2 linked regions of the Homo sapiens genome follow. Each later gene encodes a partner of the first gene's protein in a complex. Each region holds a gene or a part of one and is shown in the gene's direction. Other genes may lie near its edges.

Region 1 (10,278 bases):
AGGCTGGTCTTGAACCCCTGAACTCAGGTGACAACGCCCACCTTGGCCTCCCAAAGTGCTAGGATTATGTGGGTGAGCCACTGTGCCTGGCCATTACCCAGGACTTTCTCTTACTGTGTGATTGCCCTAAACACTTTTCTTTCTATTAGAGGGCTTGTGAATTCCCAGAGAGAGGGATTCCTCTTCTTTCTAGAACTCCAGAGCCCAGCACAGAACCAAGCTAAGGTGGGAGGACAGACAGCATGCAGCAGCAGGTCCAGGTCTGAGAGAGTCAGTATTAGTCAAGGAGGCCAAGGAGGCCAAGAATAAACAAATTTCTAAAAGGTAGGCACTCTACCCAATCCATAAACACCCTCAGATTCCAGGTCATGCTCACCTTTTGAGCCTGGCCTAGGAGGCCCTGGGATGGTGCCTGCAGCCAACCTTGCTCATTGATGGAGAAAGGTCCAGGGAAGTGTGGCAGGTCCTGGGCACTGATAATGCTCATCTGACAGAACAGAGATGCTGGCAACCACATTCAGCCCCCAGTGCCCTGAGCACCCCCATCGACAACCCAGCAGCAACCCTCCAGCAACCCAGCAGGCACCTGCCTACACCCAATTTATTTTCCTTCCTTCCTTCTTTCCTTTCTTTCCTTCTCTCTCCTTCCTTCCTTTCTTTCTTTCCTTCTCGCTCTCTCCTTCCTTCCTTTCTCTCTTTCTTTCCTTCTCTCTTCCTCCCTCCCTCCCTTCCTTCCTTCTTTCTTTTTTTTGAGACAGAGTCTCTCTCTGTCGCCCAGGCTGGAGTGCAGTGGTGCGATCTCAGCTCACTGCAACCTCCACTTACTGGGTTCAAGTGATTCTCCGGCCTCAACCTCCTGAATAGCTGGGATTACATGCCTGTGCCACCACACCCGGCTAATTTCCTTCCCTCCCTTCCCTTTCCTTCTTTCCTTCCTTCCTTCCTTCCTGTTTCTGACAAAGTTTCACTCTTGTTGCCCAGGCTGGAGTGCAATGGCTCAGTCTTGGCTCACTGCAGCCTCCACCTCCTGGGTTCAAGTGATTCTTCAGTCTCAGCCTCCCGAATAGCTGAGATTACAGGTGCCCGCCACCACGCCTGGCTAATTTTGGTATTTGTAGTAGAGATAGGGTTTCGCCATGTTGGCCAGGCTGGTCACGAACTCCTGACCTCCAGTGATCCACCCGCCTCGGCCTCCCAAAATGCGGGATTACAGGTGTGAGCCACTGTGCCCAGCCTGACACCCAGTTTTCTCATGCTTCACCACTGACCCTTATCCCAGCCTGGGCTCCCTGACTTCTAGCCCAAGCCCTGGCCGCAGTCCTCAATCCTTTTTGCTTTCAAGCCAGTTACTGTTTTTAAATACTTTTTTTTTTTTTTTTTTTGAGACAGAGTCTTGTTCTGTCACCCAGCCTGGAGCAGTGGCACAATCTTGGCTCACTGCAACCTCCACCTCCTGGGTTCAAGCGATGCTCCTGCCTCAGCTTCCCAAGTAGCTGGGATTACAGGCACACGCCACCACACCTGGCTAATTTTTGTATTTTTAGTAAAGACAGAGTCTCACCATGATGGCCAGGCTAGTCTCGAACTCCTGAGGCCACCTGCCTCAGCCCCCTCAAAGTGCTGGGATTACAGGTGTGAGCCACCGTGCCTGGCCATTACCTACATGTTTGTTTTTTTTTTTTTTTTGATTACAGAAATGATACAGAATTGTCATAAAGAACTGAGAACACATAGCAGATCTTGAAAGAACTCAGCCCCTGGCTGGGAGCGGTGGCTCATGCCTGTAATCCCAGCACTTTGGGAGGCCGAGGTGGGGAGATCACGAGGTCAGGAGATCGAGACCATCCTGGCTAACACGGTGAAACCCTGTCTCCACTACAAAATACAAAAAAATTAGCCGGGCGTGGTGGCGGGTGCCTGTAGTCCCAGCTACTCGGGAGGCTGAGGCAGGAGAATGGCATGAACCTGGGAGGTGGAGCTTGCAGTGAGCCGAGATCGCGCCACTGCACTCCAGCCTGGACGACAGAGCAAGACTCCGTCTCAAAAAAAAAAAAAAAAAAGAACTCAGCCCCTGAGATGTCCCTGTGGGAACAGCCATGGTCACTGGGGAGTGAGCAGCCCTCAGCAGCTCTCTCCAAGAACATACATCATGTAGAGGCTCATCTATGCCTCTGCTGCAAGGTTCCTCTTCAGGCTGTGCCTGGCCAGGTGGGGGTTAATTTATTCTCTCCATCCCCCCACCCCCATCCTGTCACCCACCGTCCCATGTTCTGGGCTTACCTGCGCTCCGTGGAGTTCTAGGCCTGGGAGGAGCAGAGTGTACAGCCGAGCCCCAGGTGTGACTGTCTCTGGCACCTGAATCATTTCCCCAGCTGGCCAGAGTGGAGGTCAGGGAGGATCTGCTCAGGCCATGCCTGCCCCCACCCTGCCGGCTGCCCCTGGCCTCACCTGGGCTGGCAAATTGACCAGCACACTGGATATGGCTAAGGTCCCGCTGCACATCCACAGAGAGTGAGCCCTCCATCACATGGTTGCCACATGTGAACTTCAGCTGCACCTTGTAGTGGTTCACCATCAGGGCATCCAACTGAGCAGAGCTGCTCAAGGTCAACTGGGGTGGGTGGACAGTGCCATGTGGGGCTTGGAAATTTTAGGTCTGCCCTTGTGCCCCCACAGTCCCCAGCTGTACACATGACCCTACCTTGCCCACATAGGTCCCTTGCCACCTGGCCAAGCTGGGTGGGTTGAAGAAGGTGGTGGGTGGCTGGACATTGAGCAACTCCAGGGTGGGTGTGGGCGTGTAGGAGGAGCAGTTGAAGGATAAAAACTGAAGGACTGTGCCAGGGCCCTGGCTCTCAGAGACATTTATAAAGCAGGGCAGGCTGCAGAGGTCTGTGAAGAGCAGAGAATTCAGGCTGGAGGCCCCCAGGCTGATGGAACCACACATACTAGCATAGTCCTGTCCTTTTGCCACAGGGCCTGGCCATGCCATGGGGCCAAGCAGCTAAGGCCTTTCCTTGTATCCAGCATCCAGCATTTCACAGATGGGGAGTGAGAACTTGACTGAGGAAGTGGCCAAGAGAAGGGGTGAGGGCCAGGGGTTCAGATTCTTACACTTTCCTACCTCTCCCCCAATCCCTGTCCTCCATGGTAGCTTATCTGGGAAGGGTCAGGACTCCAAGGGAAAACTACGGTTCCCCCACCCACCACCTCCTCACCAGAGACCACCGGAGCAAAGAGGAACACGAGGAGCCTGAGCAGCACCATGATGACCTGAAGACACAGACAGCAGAGGAGGCTTCAGAAAGCTAGGCTGTTTGTCTGACTCACCCTGTTGCCAGGTCAGTTGCTCAAACATAGCTGGGCAGGCGGGACTCCTGGGCCTCCCAGATTCTATCCCCACCCATCCCTGGTGACTGAGTTCTAGACCTCTGGCAGGCTTCCAGAGGCTCAGAATATCCCATTTTCCATTGCCCCCATTCATTACAACTCTAAGGGCATGGAAGGGGAGGAGGATTAAGGTTCAGATGAGGAAACTGGTCATGCAATCCGTGGAGATAGAGCAAGCACAGCACCCAGGAAAATTTGGCCCAGGACCTGCTACCCCACAGAGTCTCAACTCCAGCTGGACCCCCTCCATTAGAACATTATCTGCCTATAAAAAATGAGCCCAACCGTCAACAAAATCTCTCAAAACTTGCTGGGTGTGGCGGCTTACATCTGTAATCCCAGCACTTTGGGAGGCTGAGGTGGGAGGATCACTTGAGCTCAGGAGTTCAATATCAGCCTGGGCAACAAAGTGAGACCCCATCTCTACAAAAAATTAGTTGGGTGTGGTGATCCAGGCCTGTAGTCCCAGCTACTCTGGAGGCTGAGGTAGGAGGATTGCTTGAACCCCAAGAGATCGAGGCTGCAGTGAGTCATGATTGTGCCACTGTACTCCAACCTGAGTGACAGAGCAAGACCCTGTCTCAAAAAAAAAGAAAAAAGAAAAAAAAAGTTGTCTACATCCAACAAGCAAAAGGAATCCTTTATGATAGAAATACAAATACTGGTTACCGTTGGGAATATCAGTTGGATAGGGCACCAGGTGGCATCCAGGAGTTGCTGAGGATGTTCTATATCTGGGTGGCAGCTGCACAAGTGTCTACAGATTTTAACATTTACTGGGCTGTAACTTTGAGATCTGTCTATTTATTGTATTTATATGTCAGTTTTTTTAAGTTTTCTGGCCAGGCACGGTGGCTTATGCCTGTATGGGAGGCTGAGGCAGGAGGATCGTTTGAGATCAGGAGTTCGAGACCAGCCTGGACAACATGGTGAAACCCTGTCTCTACAAAAAAAAAAAAAAAAAAAATTAGCTGAGTGTGGTGGCACATGCCTGTAGTCCCAGTTACTTGAGAGGCTGAGATAGGAGGGTCACTTGAGCCCCAGAGATGGAGGCTGCAGTGAGCCAAGATCATGCCACTGCACTCCAGCCTGGGTGACAGAGTGAGGCCCTGTCTCAAAAAAAAAAACAAAAACGGTTGTCTTTATTTGCCATCTCCAGTTCTTCAGTCCTCACTCTCTTCTCCACACACTCTAATCAGGCTTGTCCCTCTCTACACAAAACTGCCCTTGTCAGGGTTCCCAGTGACCTATGCACTGCCGAATCCAGTGGTTTGTTCTTCACCCTCACTGCCTAGGCAGCATTCAATGCTTGCTCCCCTTGGGTCCTGAGTCCCCACATTCTCAGATTTCTCCTGGCTGTTCCTGCTCAGCTTCTTTGATAGCTCTGCTTCATATCTCCCCTACCTCCACCTCATGGAATGTCCCAGGGCACAGTCCCGATTGCTGTCTCCCTCTGACTACACTGATTTCCTCCCACCCCACCTTATCCAGGCCTATGGCCTTACATACCATCCATTCACTCACTATGCCTCCCAGATCCAAGGCTCCAGTGCTGATCTCTCTCCTGAAGTCCAGAGTCATACACCTAGCAGCTGACTCTGCAACTCCTCTTGGATGTCTAACAGGCATCTCAAGGGTTACGTGTCCATAAATGATCATTGGATTTTCCTCTCCAAACCCACTCTTCTCCAGTCTTTCCCAGATCAGTTTATGGCAATTTCATCCAACCAGCTGTTAATGCCAGAAATGTAGGAGTCATGCTTGATGCCTCTTTTCCTGCCCACATCCATGCATCAGCAAGACTTGATTTTAGTTCCAAAACATACCCCAAAGTGACCCCCTTCAGTGCACCTGCCCTGCCCAGGCCTAGGCCCTCCCCTTCGTTGCCTGGATGAGGGCAGGGACTTCCACTCTTATTGCAGAATCCTTTTCTGAAAGCAGCTGGGATTATCTAAACAAGGGCTAGCCCAGGTCATTCCTGCTCAAAGGCCCCCATTGCTCCTCATCACACCAAGAACAAAACCCACATTCTGCTCTAAGGCCGTTAGAGCCTGGTTTTGCTGACCTTTTCCCTCCTGCCACCACCACCAATCACAGACACCTGGGCCTTCTTTATGTTTGGCCCTGTCCAGCTCCTGTCCGTCGGGGTCTCTTCCCTGGCTGCTCCTTCTGCCTAGAATGTTCTTCTTCTCCTTCTTCTCCTTCTCCTTCTTCTCCTTCTCCTCCTCCTGCTTCTTCTTCCTTTCTTTTTTTTTTGAGACGGAGTCTCACTCTGTCGCCCAGGCTGGAGTGCAGTGGCGCGATCTCCGCTCACTGCAAGCTCCGCCTCCCGGGTTCACGCCATTCTCCTGCCTCAGCCTCAGGAGTAGCTGGGACTACAGGCGCCCGCCACCACGCCCGGCTAATTTTTTTTGTATTTTTAGTAGAGACGGGGTTTCACCATGTTAGCCAGGATGGTCTCGATCTCCTGACCTCGTGATCCGCCCGCCTCGGCCTCCCAAACTGCTGGGATTACAGGCGTGAGCCACCGCGCCCGGCCAGAATGCCCCTCTTCTTGATTGCATCTTGATGTCACCTCCTGTGAGACTGACTTTCCCCAAGCTAGCCCACGGCCCTCATTCCCTGGTATTTTCCTGTTGCTGGTATGTCCAGTCTGTCTGCAGCTACACTACCCTTGAGCCTAGCCTGTGTTGATAGAGCAGCCTCAGCACCGACCCTCAGTCTGCACCTGGTACCGGCAAAGGGAATGCCGACGGTCGCGCGTCGCCGCTGGACTCGCGACTAGCCAAGCACTCCCCACTAGAGGGCAGTCCCGTCTAGCTCGGTTGGGACGCGGCTGAGGCCCCGCCGGTGCGCTGCCACAAAGTCCCGCCCTCTCTTGAGTCCTCAGACGGGCTGAACCCCACTTCCATCCCGTTCAGGGAGTGCCAAGGCCAGCCTCACGAATGGGTCCCGTGGGTCAGGCCCCGAGGGTCCACAACCTCTCTGGGTCCGACCATCCGGGGTGCTCTGCCTATGTGCGGACGCAGCACGGCGCCCCGTGAGAGGGACCGCTATTTCACCATTGAACAAACGGGGAGGATGAGGCCCCCGCACGGAGGCGACCTGTCCTGCGTCACGCAGCAAACGCAGGGTCCACTCAACAGTCTGGGGGCTCGGGGGGTCCCCGTACCGGCCCCGTCCGGCTTCCAGTTATGACCCCGCCCTTCCCACCCAGAACCGCGGCGGAGTCGGGAGGGACGCCGGGCTTTAGCCCCGCCCCCTTTGGCCGCGGGGCCGGGGCGGGGCGCGGCTGCCAGATGTCGGGGCGGCGGCGGCGGGAGCTACGGAGAGCGAGGAGTCGCGCAGGCAGGCGGAGGCTGAGGGCGCCGCTGGCCGGCCCTCCCAGCCCTCTCCGCGCGGCTCCGCCGGGGTTCCAAGAGGAGCTAGTAGGTTCGGTGGGGGCCCTGGCATGGACATGCACAGCGCTCGGCTTGACAGCTTCCTTAGCCAGCTCCGCTGGGAACTGGTGAGGCTCGGGAGCGGGTGTGGTTAGTGAGGACGCGTGCGGGATGCCAGGCTGCCGCCCGGCCGGAACAACAGACGGGTGCGGGGTGGCTCCAGCGTGCCGGTCCGAGGCGGGGTGGGGGCGGCGTGGCGCATATGGCTCAGATGGCCCGCGTCGGGTTTCGGACGGTTGGGAACTGAGCTGAGCATCAGATAACAGCATCCAGCTGGCCGTGCTGCTGGAACGGCGCGGGAGGAGAGAGTGGAAGGGGGACTTCTTTGGGGGCGGGGCATGGGGCGGCAAGGGACTAACGAGGTGCTGGCGCTGCTGTGAACGCCCCCTACTTCAGGCTGGCCTATGCCTCCCTTCTCTACCCCTCACCTAGCAAGCGCTCTTTCTGTGAAAGACGCTTTGGGCTTTGGGAGCTGAATCCCCCAATAGGCACGGGATGCCCCTCCAGTCCTGGGCAGGACCTACTTCCCCGTTCAGGCCCGCAACCCTGCCTGCCTGCCCGCCCGCCCTGGTGGCGGGTGCCGACTTGCCCGGCCCTGCATGCTGCAGCCTGCCAGACTGCCACCAGGTCGGTGGATGAGAACCACACCAGCTTCGAGTGCCAGCACCCCTATGCCTGCCCTGTGCTCACTAACACCCTGCTGCCCAGGCCAGCAGGCCTATCTAACCTTCCTGGACCCTCTGTTCTCTGGGCTGGCCTGGTGACAAGTGATACCTCTCCGACTTCTGCCCTCTCTTCCCCTCAGTTGTGTGGTCGGGACACAGGCTCACCCTCAATGCCTGGTCCCCTGCAGCCAACCTCCCAAACTGGCCCAGATGTGCAGCCCAGCCACCAGCTTAGGGCCTCGGGTGCCTTGGAAGAGGACTCAGTCTGCTGTGTGGAGGAGGAGGAAGAGGAGGAGGAGGAAGCAGTGGTGACAGAAGACAGGGATGCAGCCTTGGGAGGCCCCAGGGAGCATGCCCTGGACTGGGACTCTGGCTTCTCGGAGGTGTCAGGCAGCACATGGCGAGAGGAAGAACTGCCTGTATCCCAGCGCCCAGCACCCTCAGCACAGCCCCTTCGTAGGCAGTGCCTCTCAGTCAGTGGCCTCCCCATGCCCAGCAGGGCCCCTGTAGCCAGTGTACCACCTGTCCACCATCCACGGCCCAAGTCCACCCCAGACGCCTGCCTGGAGCACTGGCAGGGACTGGAAGCAGAGGACTGGACAGCAGCCCTACTGAACAGGGGTCGCAGTCGCCAGCCCCTGGTACTAGGGGACAATTGCTTTGCTGACTTGGTGCACAACTGGATGGAGCTGCCTGAGACAGGGAGTGAAGGGGGTGACGGAGGTGGGCACCGTGCCCGTGCTCGGCCCCCTCAGTTCCTGCTTGGCCTCTCTGAGCAGCTTCGGCGCCGGCTGGCCAGGGCTCGGCGGACAGCTATGGCAGGAAAGCGGCTGTCATGCCCACCTCGCCCAGAACCTGAACTGCCTGCGGATGTCTCACGCTTTGCAGCTCTCATGAGCTGTCGTAGCCGCCAGCCCATCATCTGCAATGATGTCAGCTACCTCTGACCCTGCCCTCCAGCCTGGGACAATAAAAGCCTTTTTTCTAGACTGTCCTGGCTCCATACCCCTGAGGCACTAAGAGGCAGCCCCAGCCCTGTGAGGCACTGCCCAGGGAGACAAATCTTCTGAAGAGCTTTTTTTCTCTGTGTGAAGGTCCCTGTCATGCCCATGTCACACCCGTGTGCATTAGTGCACTGTTTTCTATCGTCCATCCTCTCTGCAATGCCTTCCTTTAACAAGCATTTATTGAGTGCCTACTGTGGGCTTACAATGCAGGGCTTGGGATCCGGGGCTCCATTGAGCTAGGTGACAGGGTGGCTGCCTTGTCACAGCTCATAGTGCAGAGGTGGGAAGGCAGTGTCCTCGTCGTCACCCTCACAGCTCAGCTCTAGCACCAACACCCGCTGCCCAGGAGCAGGTGCCTGGCCTGTCAGCTGCTGAACCAGTTCTGTCACCCTGGTAGGGGTGGGTTTAGGGGAGATTGGAGAGGTGAGCCATGGCAAGCAGAAGGCAGCCTGGCATGGACTAGAGAGGGTGCTGGCAGGCCGTCAGGAGCCCAAGCCAGGAGCAGGAGCTGCTCAAGACAGGAAACATCTGAAACTATTTTAGGAGCAGCTGATGAGGCAAGCAGGAGGCAGGAAGCTATGGGTCCCTTGGGAGTGGGCTGTGAAAGGGGGGCTGTGCAGCATGTGGGGAGCCCATGGGGCTGGCCAAATAGGCAGCTCCTGAAGACTCCTCCTCAGGCTCTCGGCCCTCACCCCACCTCCAGCCTGTTTGCTGGCTCCATTTGGGGAAAGAATGCTTGGGAAGGTGTGAGGGGCCCAGAATGGGGCTGGGAAGACAAAAGGCAGTGTGGTCCCTAGCCCCAGCCTCCAGGGACTGGTGGGGCCTGTCTAAAGCCCCAAGTGGGCTCACCTGAGGGGCAGGTGCTGGGCCTGCTTTTCAGGTGACCATCCGGCCGCATAGAGCAGGGCTGAGCCGTGCAGCAGGATCCTCACCCTCAACCCGTGCTGCTCCTAGAGGAGAAAGGTCAGACACCAGCTGGGCCGGGCTGGGCTGAGCCTGGGGGTTGGGGTAGCAACAGGGCACACCTGAAGATGAGCCAGCAGCGACTCCAGGGTCCTCTCAGGCTGCCCAGCTGGTACCTTCAGACGGTCCCAAGAGGTCCACTTCAGGTGATGGAACTGGGATGAGGTAGAGGAGGAGTCAGAGACTTCTTACCTCCCCCCAACCCCCATCCCAGTTACCAGCAGCCTTTCCTAGGGGAAGAGCTGGACTAGCAGGAAACAGGAGCCAGGGGGTGGGGGGTGGGGGGGAGGTGGGATCTGGGCCCAGAGTCTCAGCCCCCTCCCCGTCCAGGCCGGGGCCAGCACAGGAAATGGGGCTATGGGGCCCGCACAGGGAAACAGACGATCCATCACATGGGCCAGTTGTGAGAGTGGGGGATGAGGGGGTGGTGCTTCCTGAGGAAACCCAGAGCAGGGCCCCTGCAGCCTCTGATAAAGCTGCTTGTTCCTCAAAGACAAGGCTGGGAGCTGGGGGGCACATCCTGTCCCCCAATCTTGTATGTACTGCCAGTGCCTTGGGCTACTCATTGGGACACAGGGGCAAAGGGCACAGTGACCACCAGGGCCCCACTGTCCCAGAGACCCCAGCAGGGATACAATGCATAGAGGCTTCCTCCTCCTGTCCCTTCCTTCCTTCCAAGAGTCTTGGGGTTCTGGGACCTAGAGCTAAGGACAGAAGGATGGCTGGCAGGTATCTAGAGACCAGGACAGGGGGTGCTTATCAGCCCCTGAGAAAACACACTGGGGTCAAGCTGAGACTAGGCTAGAGGTGAGA
Region 2 (11,153 bases), on another chromosome or scaffold:
GACTACAGGTGCCCGCCACCACGCCAGACTAATTTTTTGTATTTTTAGTAGAGACGGGGTTTCACTGTGTTAGCCAGGATGGTCTCAATCTCCTGACCTCGTGATCAGCCCGCCTCGGTCTCCCAAAGTGCTGGGATTACAGGCGTGAGCCACTGCGCCTGGTAAATTTTTTGTATTTTTAGTAGAGATGGGGTTTCACTATGTTGACCAGGCTGGTCTTGAACTTCTGGCCTCAAGTGATTCACCTGCCTCAGCCTCCCAAAGTGCTGGGATTATAGGCGTGACCACCACGCCCGGCTTAAGCATCAGTTTTGAAATCAAGATTTCCTGGTTACAAGCCCAGCAGAGTTGCTTCCAGGTGGTGGGACTTTGTTCTACTTTCCACTCTATTTCTGTGCCTCAATTTCCTCATCTGTTAAGTGGAGCTAAAGATCCCACTTTAAATATAAATAGTGACAATTAGATAAGATCAAGTAGTTAGGCAGGGCATGGTGGTTCATGCCTATAGCCCAGCACTTTGGGAGGTGAAAGTGGGAGGATCACATGAAGCCAGGAGTTGGAGACCAGCCTGGCCAACATATCGAGACCCTGTCTCTACACAAAATTTAAAAATGAGCTGGGTGTGGTGGCGCATGCCTGAGTCCCAGCTACTCAGGAGGCTGAGGCAGAAGAATCACTTGAACCCAAGAATAAGAGGTTATAGTGAGCTTTATGATCCAGCCATTGTACTCCAGCCTGGGTGACAGAGAGACCCTATTTTTAAAACAAAACAAAAGATATGTAGGTAAAGTGGATTTAGAGAAGGTCTGGCATAGAGGGTAGGGAAAAACTTGGAAGCAACCCAAATGTCCAATAATAGGGGATTCAAGTACTTTTTTTTTTTTTTTTTTTGAGACAGGGTTTTGCTCTGTCACCCAGGCTGGAGGGCAGTGGCCGATCTCAGCTCACTGCAACCTCCACACACACCCCCTCCCCAACTGGCTCAAGTGATCCTCCCACCTCAGCCTCCCAAAGTGCTGGGCTATAGGCATGAACCACCATGCCCAGCCTGAGTGCCCAGAGTAGCTGGGATTACAGGCATGTGCCACCATGCCCAGCTAATTTTTGTATTTTAGTAGAGCTGGGGTTTCGCTATATTGGCCAGGCTGGTCTTGAACTCCTCATCTCAAATGATCTGCCTGCCTTGGCCTCCCAAAGTGCTGGAATTATAGGCATGAGGCACTGTGCCCGGCCCAAGTACATTATGATACATCAATAATATTACATATAAAAAGCAATAGTTATAATAAACATTAAAATAGTACTTACTAATGATGAATATTTGCATATATACACCTTTATCTATGTTTTTTTCCTAAAGAAAGCAACACTAGTCTTTCTTTCCCTTTAAGATCAGTTCCTAGAAGTAGAATTGCTGTATCAAGAGGTAGATAGGAATATTAAGTCTCTTAATAAATATCACCAAAAAGCTGCCCAGATCCAGTCCACAGTGGGGTATGAGAGTGCTGATGGCGTGTACTCTCATCAGCACTAATTATATATTATAATATATTAATATTTAAAAACATTTTTCTGAGAGACCAAAAGCAAATCTCAGTTTAATACTTATTTCATTAATTGCTTGTTCACCAATTCAATTTTTTTGTATTCACTGTTATTTATTTATTTATTTATTTTAGGTCCTTTGCCTGTTTTTTTCTGTTGTATGTTTACCTTTTTCTCTTATTGATCTGCAGATGTTCTTTACATATGAAAGACAGAAAGCTTTTCTTGCCATCCATATGTCACAACTTATCTTTTTCCTTGATGTACTGAAATGTATCATTTTTATGAAGCCAAATCCTCTTCACCCTCCTCGCCTTTTTCCATCCCTCAAGAGTCACCTCCTCAACATCCCCACTGGGAAGCCTTCTGTAGGAGGCTCTTTGGAGTCTGATTTTCCTCTCCCAGGGTCCTGGAGTAGCAGGGCCTGATTGCTCACCCTGAGTAAGCCCTTGGGGTAGATCTGTCCCTGGGATTGTTCCAGGGGTCTGACTATTGATGCAATCCCCAACTAAGTTACAAGGGGACTTCCCCAAAAATGAGTTCTAGAACCTAAGGCTCTGAAGTTTGTGCAGGGCGTTAAAGAGGCAAAGGCTGCACCTGCCCCTCCTCCCGTTACTATGACCTGAATAAGGTGTTGTCATCTCAGCTCCTGGTCTTGGTTTTTTGTTTTTTTTTTTTAATGAAGATTCTGCAAGACACACAAGCATTTCAAAAGAGTGCAAAAACAAGAATGTTTCATGCTGACAAGGATTATTTTTATTTATTTATTTATTTATTTATTTATTTATTTATTTATTTTTGAGACAGGGTCTTGCTCTGTCACCAGGCTGGAGTGCAGTGGTGCAATCTTTTTTTTTTTTTTTTTTTTTGAGACAGAGTCTCGCTCTGTTACCAGGCTGGAGTACAGTGGCTTGGTCTCGGCTCACTGCAACCTCTGCCTCCTGGGTTCAAGCGATTCACCTGCCTCAGCCTCCCAAGTAGCGGGGATTACAGGCACGTGCCACCACGCCCGGCTAATTTTTGTATTTTTAGTAGAGATGGGGTTTCACCATGTTAGCCAGGCTGGTCTTGAACTCCTGACCTCATGATCCTCCCGCCTCGGCCTCCCAAAGTGCTGGGATTACAGGCGTGAGCCACCGCGCCCAGCCAAGTGGTGCAATCTTGGCTCACTGCAACCTCCACCTCCGGATTCCAGCGATTCTCCTGCCTCAGGCTCCTAAGTAGCTGGGATTACAGACGCCTACCACCACGCCTGGCTCATTTTTGTATTTTTAGTAGAGACAGGGTTTCACCAAGTTGGCCAGGATGGTCTCGATCTCTTGACCTTGTGATCCGCCCACCTCGGCCTCCCAAAGTGCTGGGATTACAGGCGTGAGCCACCACGCCTGGCCCCCAGTGCTGACAAGGATTCTTTAAAGGGCGCATTCTCTCTGAAGGCTGGTGGGAGCGTGAGTTGGATCCCTACAGCACAATTTGGCAATGTGTGTCCCAGGCCATGAGGAGGCAGCAGAGGGCAGTCAATGAGAACAGTGCCCGGGAGTCAAAGCTGGGTTTGCCCCATTGGTCCTTGAGTTTGAGCAAGTGAAGTTACTTCTCTGAGCCTCAGTTTCCTCCTCTGGAAAAGGGATGAATATTCACAGCTTTAGCTGTTACAATTACATGGCTTAGCACCCTGCTTCCTGATGCACAGAAATGCTTGAAACATGGGAACTGTTACTATTCTTTTTTTTTTTTTTGAGAGTCTCACTCACTCTGTCACCCAGGGTGGAGTGCAGTGATGCCACCTCTGCCACCTCGGCTCACTGCAACCTCCGACTCCCAGGTTCAAGCGATTTTCCTGCCTCAGCCTCCTGAGTAGCTGGGATTACAGATGTGCACCACCATGCCCGGCTAATTTTTTGTATTCTTAGTAGAAACGGGGGTTTCACCACGTTGGCCAGGCTGGTCTCGAAATCCTGACCTCAAGTGATCCGCCTGCCTCGGCCTACCAAAGTGCTGAGATTCCAGGCGGAAGCCACCACACCCGGCCACTGTTACTATTCTTAATTCTTAAAGATACACCTTCTCCTTGACCCAGAAGTTTCATTTGTAGTAGGAACAATAATTAGAGACAGGCACAAGGAAATAATTAGAGATGGTCACAAATATTTAGCTGCTTGGATTTTGCATGACAGGGAGGGGGATTATTTATAATGGCAAGGTACTACAGCATAGATGTTCAAAAGGACAGTGATTAAACAAATTCGAGTTCATTGATAGGATGGCATCTTATGCAGCCATTAAAACTAATCTTCTTGAAGAATATTTAATGACATGGAAAGACACTGGTGATATTTACAATCTTGTGGTTTAAAAGACAACATTCTAGGCTGGGTGTGGTGGCTCACGCCTATAATTCAAACACTTTGGGAGGCCAAGGCGGGGCGGATCACCTGAGGTCAGGAGTTCGAGACCAGCCTGACCAACATGGAGAAACCCCGTCTCAACTGAAAATACAAAATTAGTTGGGCGTGGTGGCACATGCCTGTAATCTCAGCTACTGGGGAGGCTGAGGAGGGAGAATCGCTTGAGCCCGGGAAGCAAAAGTTGCAGTGAGCTGAGATCATGCCATTGTACTCCAGCGTGGGCAATGAGAGCAAAATTCCGTCTCAAAAAAAAAAAAAAAGACACAACATTCTTTACAAACGTATGTTTCCAATTCTGTCAAAAGAAAAAAGGGGTCAGTCATGGTGGCTCACACCTGCAATCCCAGCACTTTGGGAGGCTAAGGTGAGAGGATTGTTTGAGGCCAGGAGTTCAAGACCAGCCTGGGCAACACAGCGAGACCCCGTCTCTACTAAAAATTAAGAAAATTAGCCAAGCCAGGTGCAGTGGCTCATGCCTGTAATCCAACACTTTGGAAGGCCAAGGCGGACAGATCACTTGAGACCAGGAGTTCGAGACCATCCTGGCCAACATGGGGAAGCCCCGTCTCTACTAAAAATACAAAAATTAGCCGGGCATGGTGGTAGGCGCCCAGGAGTCGTTTGAACTCTGGAGGCGGAGGTTGCAGTGAGCCAAGATCATGCTACTACACTCCAGCCTGGGTGACAAAGTGAGATTCTGTCGAAAGAAAGAGGAAAGAAAGAAGGAAGGAAGGAAGGAAGGAAAGAAAGAGAAAGAAAGAAAGAAAAAGAAAGAAAGAAAGAAAATTAGCCGGTGTGGTGGCTTATGCCTATAGTCCCAGCTACTTGAGAGGCTAGGTTGGAAGGATCACTTGAGCCCAGGAGTTTCAGACTGCAATCCCGCCTGGGCGACAGAGTAAGACCCCTATCTAAAAAAAAAAAAAAAAACAAAAAACAAAACAAACAAAAAAAAAAACGAATGAACAAATAAAAAGAAAAAAGATAGGTAAACATAAAGAAAAATTAACTCATCATTCAATCATTCATTCATTGTTGCCACCGACATTAGTAGAAATTAATTAAATGCCTACTATGTGGCTGTTCTGGGGCAGAGGAGAAGCACCAAACATTTAAGAGTATCTCTGAAGGGGTGGAATTACCACGCATTCAAACAGCCCTTCCACCAATGTTTACTGAGCATCTACATGCCAACAGTGCTGGGGCACTGGGAATGCAGCAGTGAACAAAGACAGAAATCCATGTTGTCATGGGGCTGACATTCCAGCAGAGGAGACAACCAACAAGCAATAACTACAATTAGGAGTGAGAAATAAGAACAAAGCAGACAGAGTTTGGTAGTATGTGAGAGGGATGTTTGCTGCTTTCCTTAGGGTGAGCGAGGGAATTAGTTCACAGAGAAAGTGACATCTGTGTAAAGCCCTGAAAAAAGGGAGGGAGAGATAAGGATACCTGGGGGAAGAGTATGTTCCAGGCAGAGGAACAACCAGTGCAAAGACTGTGAGGTGAGAGCGCACCTGACAAGAGTTCAGGAACAGCATGAAGGCTGGAGTCCAGTGAATAAGATCCAGGAGGAGAGATGTCTGGCCGGGCGCAGTGGCTCACGCCTGCAATCCCAGCACTTTGGGAGGCCGAGGCAGGAGTATAGTTTGAGCCCAGGAGTTCGAGACCAGCCTGGCCAACACAACAAAACTCTCTCTTTAAAAATAAAAGAAAAAGGCCAGCTTGGTGGCTCACACGTGTAATCCCAGCACTCTGGGAGGCCGAGGCGGATAGATCACCTGAGGTCAGGAGTTCGACCTGGCCAACATGGTGAAACGCTGTCTCTACTAAAAATACAAAAAATTAGCTGGGTGTGGTGGTGGACGCCTGTAATTCCAGCTACTCAGGAGGCTGAGGCAGGAGAATCTCTTGAACCCGGGAGGCGGAGGTTGCAGTGAGCTGAGATCGCGCCATTGCACTCCAGCCTGGGCAACAAGAGCGAAACTCTATCTCAAGACAAATAAATAAGTAAAAATAAAATTTAAAAAAATTTTTAAAGAAGATGTCTGCTGTTTGTTTTCAATATTTTGACCAATTACTTCGTAAAAACTTATTTAAAAATTGAAGAGCAAACAGTCTCAGGTTCCCGGGCTCAGACAGACCAGCGTTCAAAACTCATTACCTTCTTTCTATGATGCTAAGCCAGCTATTTCACCCTCTGAACCTCTGTTTCTTTATCTGTAAAATGGGTATTAATGATATTATACCACAGGGTTGTATATGCAGCGAGAAAATGCAAGTAAAACACTTATCCCGGTGCCTGCCTCCTAGTAAGTGCTTAAGAACTGTTTCTGCCCATTAACTCATTACTTTCTCCCAGCCCCTAACTCCTTCTGGGGGGGAAGTTAGAAAATCGGTATCACACGAAAACAGTCATTTCCCCTTTAAGGACCTCAGTGGGCCGGGAGCCAGCCTTCCCGCACCTTTTCCAAAATTTCCAATCCCCGCTTGGCATTTTCTGCCCGAAGGTCTCCGATTGGACGCTCTGTACCAATCGGAGGCTGGAGCGGGCCCTGAGAGGCGCCCGACTCCGCCCCCGCACTGGCCCTGCCCACTGCCCGGTCAGCCTCGTTGCTATGGGGACTGGTGGGCGGTGAGGGGGGAAAGCCCCGGATGTTCGTTGGGGATTCAACATGGCGGCGGGAGTGTCCGCGGTGGTGGCGGTGCAAGAGAGCTGAGGGAGGCGCGAGGGCGCGGAGTTCCAGGTCGAGCAGTTAGGCCGCGAGCGACTGCGGCGCCGAGCCGGTAGGATAAGGGGTCCGGCCAGGGGCTTGCGGTGGGCCGGGCGCTGGCGGCGGGACGGCGTTTCCGCGAGGAGGGGGGCGGGGCCGCCGGGGTCAAAGGTCACTGGTGGAGGGAAGGGTCGCGTCCGAGGGGTCGGGGGTTAACGCAGACTGGAGGGAGTTGTAGTGGAGGTCGGAGATCAAACCAGCGAAGGGGGCGTGGCGAAGGGGAGTGCAAAGTTTGAAATTCGAAGTGGGGGCGCGTTCGAGGGGTTCTGGGCGAGTCTCAAAAAAGGCAGGGTCAAAGTTAATAATTTGAGGGAAGGCTGCCCCCACGAGGGTCAGAGGTCACAGCCCCAGGGGCGCCAGGTTGGAGGTTTAAAGCTGCCCCTAGCGGAGCAGATGAATGAGTTTTAGGTTCGGGGGCGTCTTTTAGGGGTTCAAAGCTGGGGCGTGCCTAGAAGGTACAAAGGTGAGAATCTGACAGCGGGGCAGCTGTTTCCCAGAGTCAAAAATTAAAACCCAAGGAGGGCGTATTGCGGGGGACGGGGGGGGGGGGGGGGGCCGGGTCAGAGATGCTTCCTGGTGACAGGAGAAGGGGGAACCCTCCCACAAATAATAATGGCAAACACTCATGAAACACTATGGGCTAGACCCTCTTTTTAACGCTTTACTTGTATGAGCTTATTCAGTCCTCACTATAGTCTTAGGGGGTCTTAACCTGGTATTAAGAGGTTAAGTGATTTGCACAAGGTCACCCGATGCATAAGTTGTGCGCTGGGATTCTAACTCCGGAGTTCTGGCCCAGAGCCCTGCTCTGGCCGACCGCCTCTCAAATCATCATAATGTCGGTTAATGTTTAATGAGGGCTCACACTGTGCTCCACGCCCTGTGTGCCCGGTCGTATTTCACTCCTGCTGCAATCTTGTGAAGTGAGTGCTCAAGATGAACCTACTTTACAGACGGGAAAAATGAGGCTCAGAAGCTTCTGCTGAAGGCAGAGTTAGAATCGAAGCTGGGCCTGGGTGATTCCAGGGCTCCTGCCCCTGGTCGCCACATTGTCCGCTGCCAGCCATTAGGTCTCTCCTGGAAGCAGGGGGCTGGGCAGGGCTGGGCCACTCCCTGGGCGGATCGGATTGTCTGCTTGGTTTCCTTGGAAGGGTGTGATCTGGCAGGGAAGATTCCTGTGAGCCTATGGGAGTAGGGTGTTTGTAGGTGGTCTGGAGTCCGAGCAAGGGAGTCCGACGGGCTTCTGACTGGGGAGAGTGTCCCTGGGTGGTACCCTGGGCAGAGCGGGGTGTTCACTGTTCTTAAAACCCTAAGCTCTCACTGTGGTCCTTAGTCACTCCCACCTCACTTCTTATGGCTCTGCCCATTTCTCCCCAGCCCCTTTACTGTTCTCCAACTCCAGGCCCATGCCTCCCGCCCGGTCTTTGACCTTCCTGTTCCTTCTGCTGGGAATCCTTTCCCCACCCTGCCCTCTCTCACTGACGGGTCGCTCACTCTCAGCTGGCCCGGGACCACCCTGGCTCGCCTTGCTGCAGGCTCTTTTTCTCTCATCTGACCAGCCCTTACCTCCCTCCTTACCTTAATTATTAGGGTGCATGGTGGAATTGCTCTGTGGGGTTCCTTGCCTCGGTCCCCACTGAAGCCCTGCCTGGCCTGCAGAGGATGTGACATTGCTGGGGGTTGACTGTTGGGCACTGTGCCGGGTGCTGGGAGTGTGGCAGGGGACGAGATCCACAGAGCCCCTAGCCTCAGAGGGCACTCAGTTCCCTGGTGGGAGCAGAGTGGAACCAGCCCCCAAGCCAGTGACACAAGACTGCGTCTCTGCAAACGGTGATGTGGCTTGCGAGGGCATCTTCAGAGAGCCGGGAGAGTGCCCCTACCCTGGGCTGAAGCCTGAGTCCCTTTCCCCTGGGAAGGCTCTGAAGGATGGGGAGGAGGGCTGGGAATGGGCTTACCAGGCAGGAGGAGCAGTGTGTGCAGAGGCCCTGGCATGACTGGAGGTCAGGACTCGGGTGCACAGTTGGGGATCTGGGCAACACGTAGCCTGTGCAGGTTCAGGGCAAGACGCTGAGGGGACTCAGCTTTGGAGGGACGGTGGGAGCAGGGGAGGGCTGAGGAGTACCTGTATGTGTGGAGCTGCCTGAGGCCTTGATGGAGCGTGATTCAGAAAGCAGTGCTGGGCCAGAGATGCCTGGTACACACCCCTCTCCATCACTCACAGAGCATGTGAGGACCTCCGTTTCCACTTCTGCAAGATGGGCATAGTGTTAGCGCTGCCTCATAGAATTGCTGTGAGGATGCAGGCTAGAGAGCCTTGGCCCAAGGCCTGGCATACAGTAGTTGCTGTGTAAGCATTAGTCTTGCTGCTGCTGCTGCTGCCACCCCACCACTGCCTGGGGAGGGCCTCAGAGACAGTGGAGGCCCTCGCTCCACCTGCCTCCTGGCTTTCTCTGGCAGCCACCCCATCCCTACCTGGCTCTGGCAGGGTCAGGGAGCCGGCACACTGCCAGGCAGCCCTCTGAGGCTGGCCCAGCCTCCCAGCCTTGCAGTGCCAGCTCACTCAGCATCTCAGGGTTTGGCACAGATAAAGAAGGATAGGGTTTGGGCATTGGAGACCCATATTCAGGTCCCTCCCTTGTCACTTACCAGCCATGGGACAAATGATTTATTTGCCACTTTTATTCCTTCAACACGTTTGGCTAGGGGAAAAAGGGCTTTCAGTATAATGAAACACTCATGCATCCGGCCATCGTCTGGCCTGGGACAGAACACACCGTGATACAGTTAGAGGCCAAGGGTCTCCTCCTCACCCCCCCTCCTCCCTCCCTTCCAGGGGCAGCCTCTGTCCTGGGTGTGGCAGTCACCATTCCTCTGCAGCCTTTCATACTTTGACTGCCCTTGAATGTATTCACCAACAGTAGAGCAACAGCTCTTGCCCCTGGCTGCACATTGCAACTCCCTGGAGAGCTTTGAAAAGATGCCTTGGCCCAGGCCCGCCATGGAAATTCTGCTTCCAACTTACTTGGTCTGGGCTGGGGCTGGCCTCAGGCTTTTGGAAGCTCCCTGGGCAGTTCTTATGGCCAGCAGGGGCTGACGACTGTTGTTTCACAGTTCAGATAAATGGTGTCACCATAAACATGCCTTTCTGCAAGTTGCTGTTTTTGTTCAACATTATAGGTATATTTGAGATGGGATCTTGCTATGTTGCCTAGACTGGACTCTTAACTCCTGGGCTCAAGCTATCCTCCCACCTCAGCCTCTGGAGTAGCTGGGATTACAGGCGCGCACACCTGCTCCCCGCTTTGAGCTGAGCATTGGAGTCTGGATGTCTCTTGGTGGGGATGTGTGTAGGCCTGGGACAGGCCATTTGTTTTTCCTGATGGTGTTTCTTTTTGTGATCGTGTCACACAGGAGTTGCCTGTTCACCTGTTGATGGCCACTGAGGTGGTCCGTTGGAGCTATAACCGTGCAGCAGTGGGCCTTCTGGAACGCGTGTTCCTGTAGACCATGGCCAGAGTCTCTCTGGCATATGCCTAGTAGTGGAAAAGCCGGAGCTCCCCGCTTTCCTAGCGGTTGCCAAGTCATGCCCCCAGTGGCTGGACCACTGTGCTCCCCAGCAGGCTCCGGGGCTCCCTTTATTTCAAGTCCTGCTTTGGGCAGCTTTGTGGCCCTCACTGAAACGATTTCCTCGGCCGTGACATGGGAGGTTTATGGGCCCACCCACCCACCCACCAGGCTGTTTGGAAACAGATGGGGAGATGGTTCACACAACTGGCTTAGCTGGGACCTCGTCCCCACTGACTCCCTACAACCACAGGAGAAGAAAGGATGGAAGGGCTTTCACCTTTACCCCCTTGGGCATCCAGGACGGTGACTGCAGCTTTGCCCCAACTGCCCTTGGGGGCAGGTGCCAGGGGTGACAGCTGGGAAAGAGAACTATACTGATTCGAACCTCTCAGGAGGGAGGCAGGGAGGACGGAGGTGAAAGTTGGAGGATGGGTGAGGCCTTGTAACATTCTTTCTGTGTATCTGACTGTTGGTCCCAGTGGTAACCAACACAGCCCAGCTCTACCCTTGTAGATTATAGTACAGTGAAGGAGACAGACCTGCTGTCCCCAGACGGTGACAGCCCAGAGAGGCCAGGGCTGTGAAGGAGAGGCCTAGGCGAGGGTCAGGGCGGGATGTGGGGGGGACCCAGGCAGAAGGGTCAGGGCGGGATGTGGGGGGGACCCAGGCAGAGGGGTCAGGGTGGGGTGGTGGGACCCAGGCAGATGGGTCATGGCGGGATGGGAGCGGGGACCCAGGCAGAGGGATCAGGGTGGGACTGGGGGGGACCCAGGCAGAGTGGTCAGAGAAGGATGGGGAAACCCAGGCAGAGGGGTCAGGGCGGGATGGGGAAACCCAGGCAGAGGGGTTGGGGCTGGATGGTGGG

Evidence for each region.
Region 2: the proteins of INKA1 (region 1) and PAK4 are in contact, whole or in part, in a crystal structure (PDB 4XBU), measured with the Homo sapiens proteins. Residues at the interface, in NP_976248.2 of Homo sapiens: Gly178 (codon at 8,116), Arg179 (codon at 8,119), Ser180 (codon at 8,122), Arg181 (codon at 8,125), Gln182 (codon at 8,128), Pro183 (codon at 8,131), Leu184 (codon at 8,134), Val185 (codon at 8,137), Leu186 (codon at 8,140), Gly187 (codon at 8,143), Asp188 (codon at 8,146), Asn189 (codon at 8,149), Cys190 (codon at 8,152); in NP_001014831.1 of Homo sapiens: Ser331, Gln358, Arg359, Glu361, Leu362, Thr404, Asp440, Lys442, Ser443, Asp444, Phe461, Leu475, Val476, Gly477, Thr478, Pro479, Tyr480, Trp481, Met482, Arg489, Glu507, Glu512, Phe516, Asn517, Glu518, Pro519, Pro520, Met524.

What each region holds. Positions count from the first base shown.
Region 1 is NC_000003.12:49,796,546-49,806,823, forward strand, and holds INKA1 (PAK4-inhibitor INKA1), read left to right. Parts: upstream 1-6,715; 5' UTR 6,716-6,847; coding exon 6,848-6,898; intron 6,899-7,635; coding exon 7,636-8,442; 3' UTR 8,443-8,485; downstream 8,486-10,278. Other genes in the region: CDHR4 (cadherin-related family member 4), read right to left, coding at 377-487, 2,281-2,372, 2,449-2,611, 2,702-2,892, 3,219-3,273, 4,900-5,049; UBA7 (ubiquitin-like modifier-activating enzyme 7), read right to left, coding at 8,763-8,892, 9,352-9,452, 9,528-9,620. UniProt on the Homo sapiens protein: Inhibitor of the serine/threonine-protein kinase PAK4. Acts by binding PAK4 in a substrate-like manner, inhibiting the protein kinase activity.
Region 2 is NC_000019.10:39,119,186-39,130,338, forward strand, and holds the start of PAK4 (serine/threonine-protein kinase PAK 4), read left to right. Parts: upstream 1-6,600; 5' UTR 6,601-6,734; intron 6,735-11,153. UniProt on the Homo sapiens protein: Serine/threonine-protein kinase that plays a role in a variety of different signaling pathways including cytoskeleton regulation, cell adhesion turnover, cell migration, growth, proliferation or cell survival.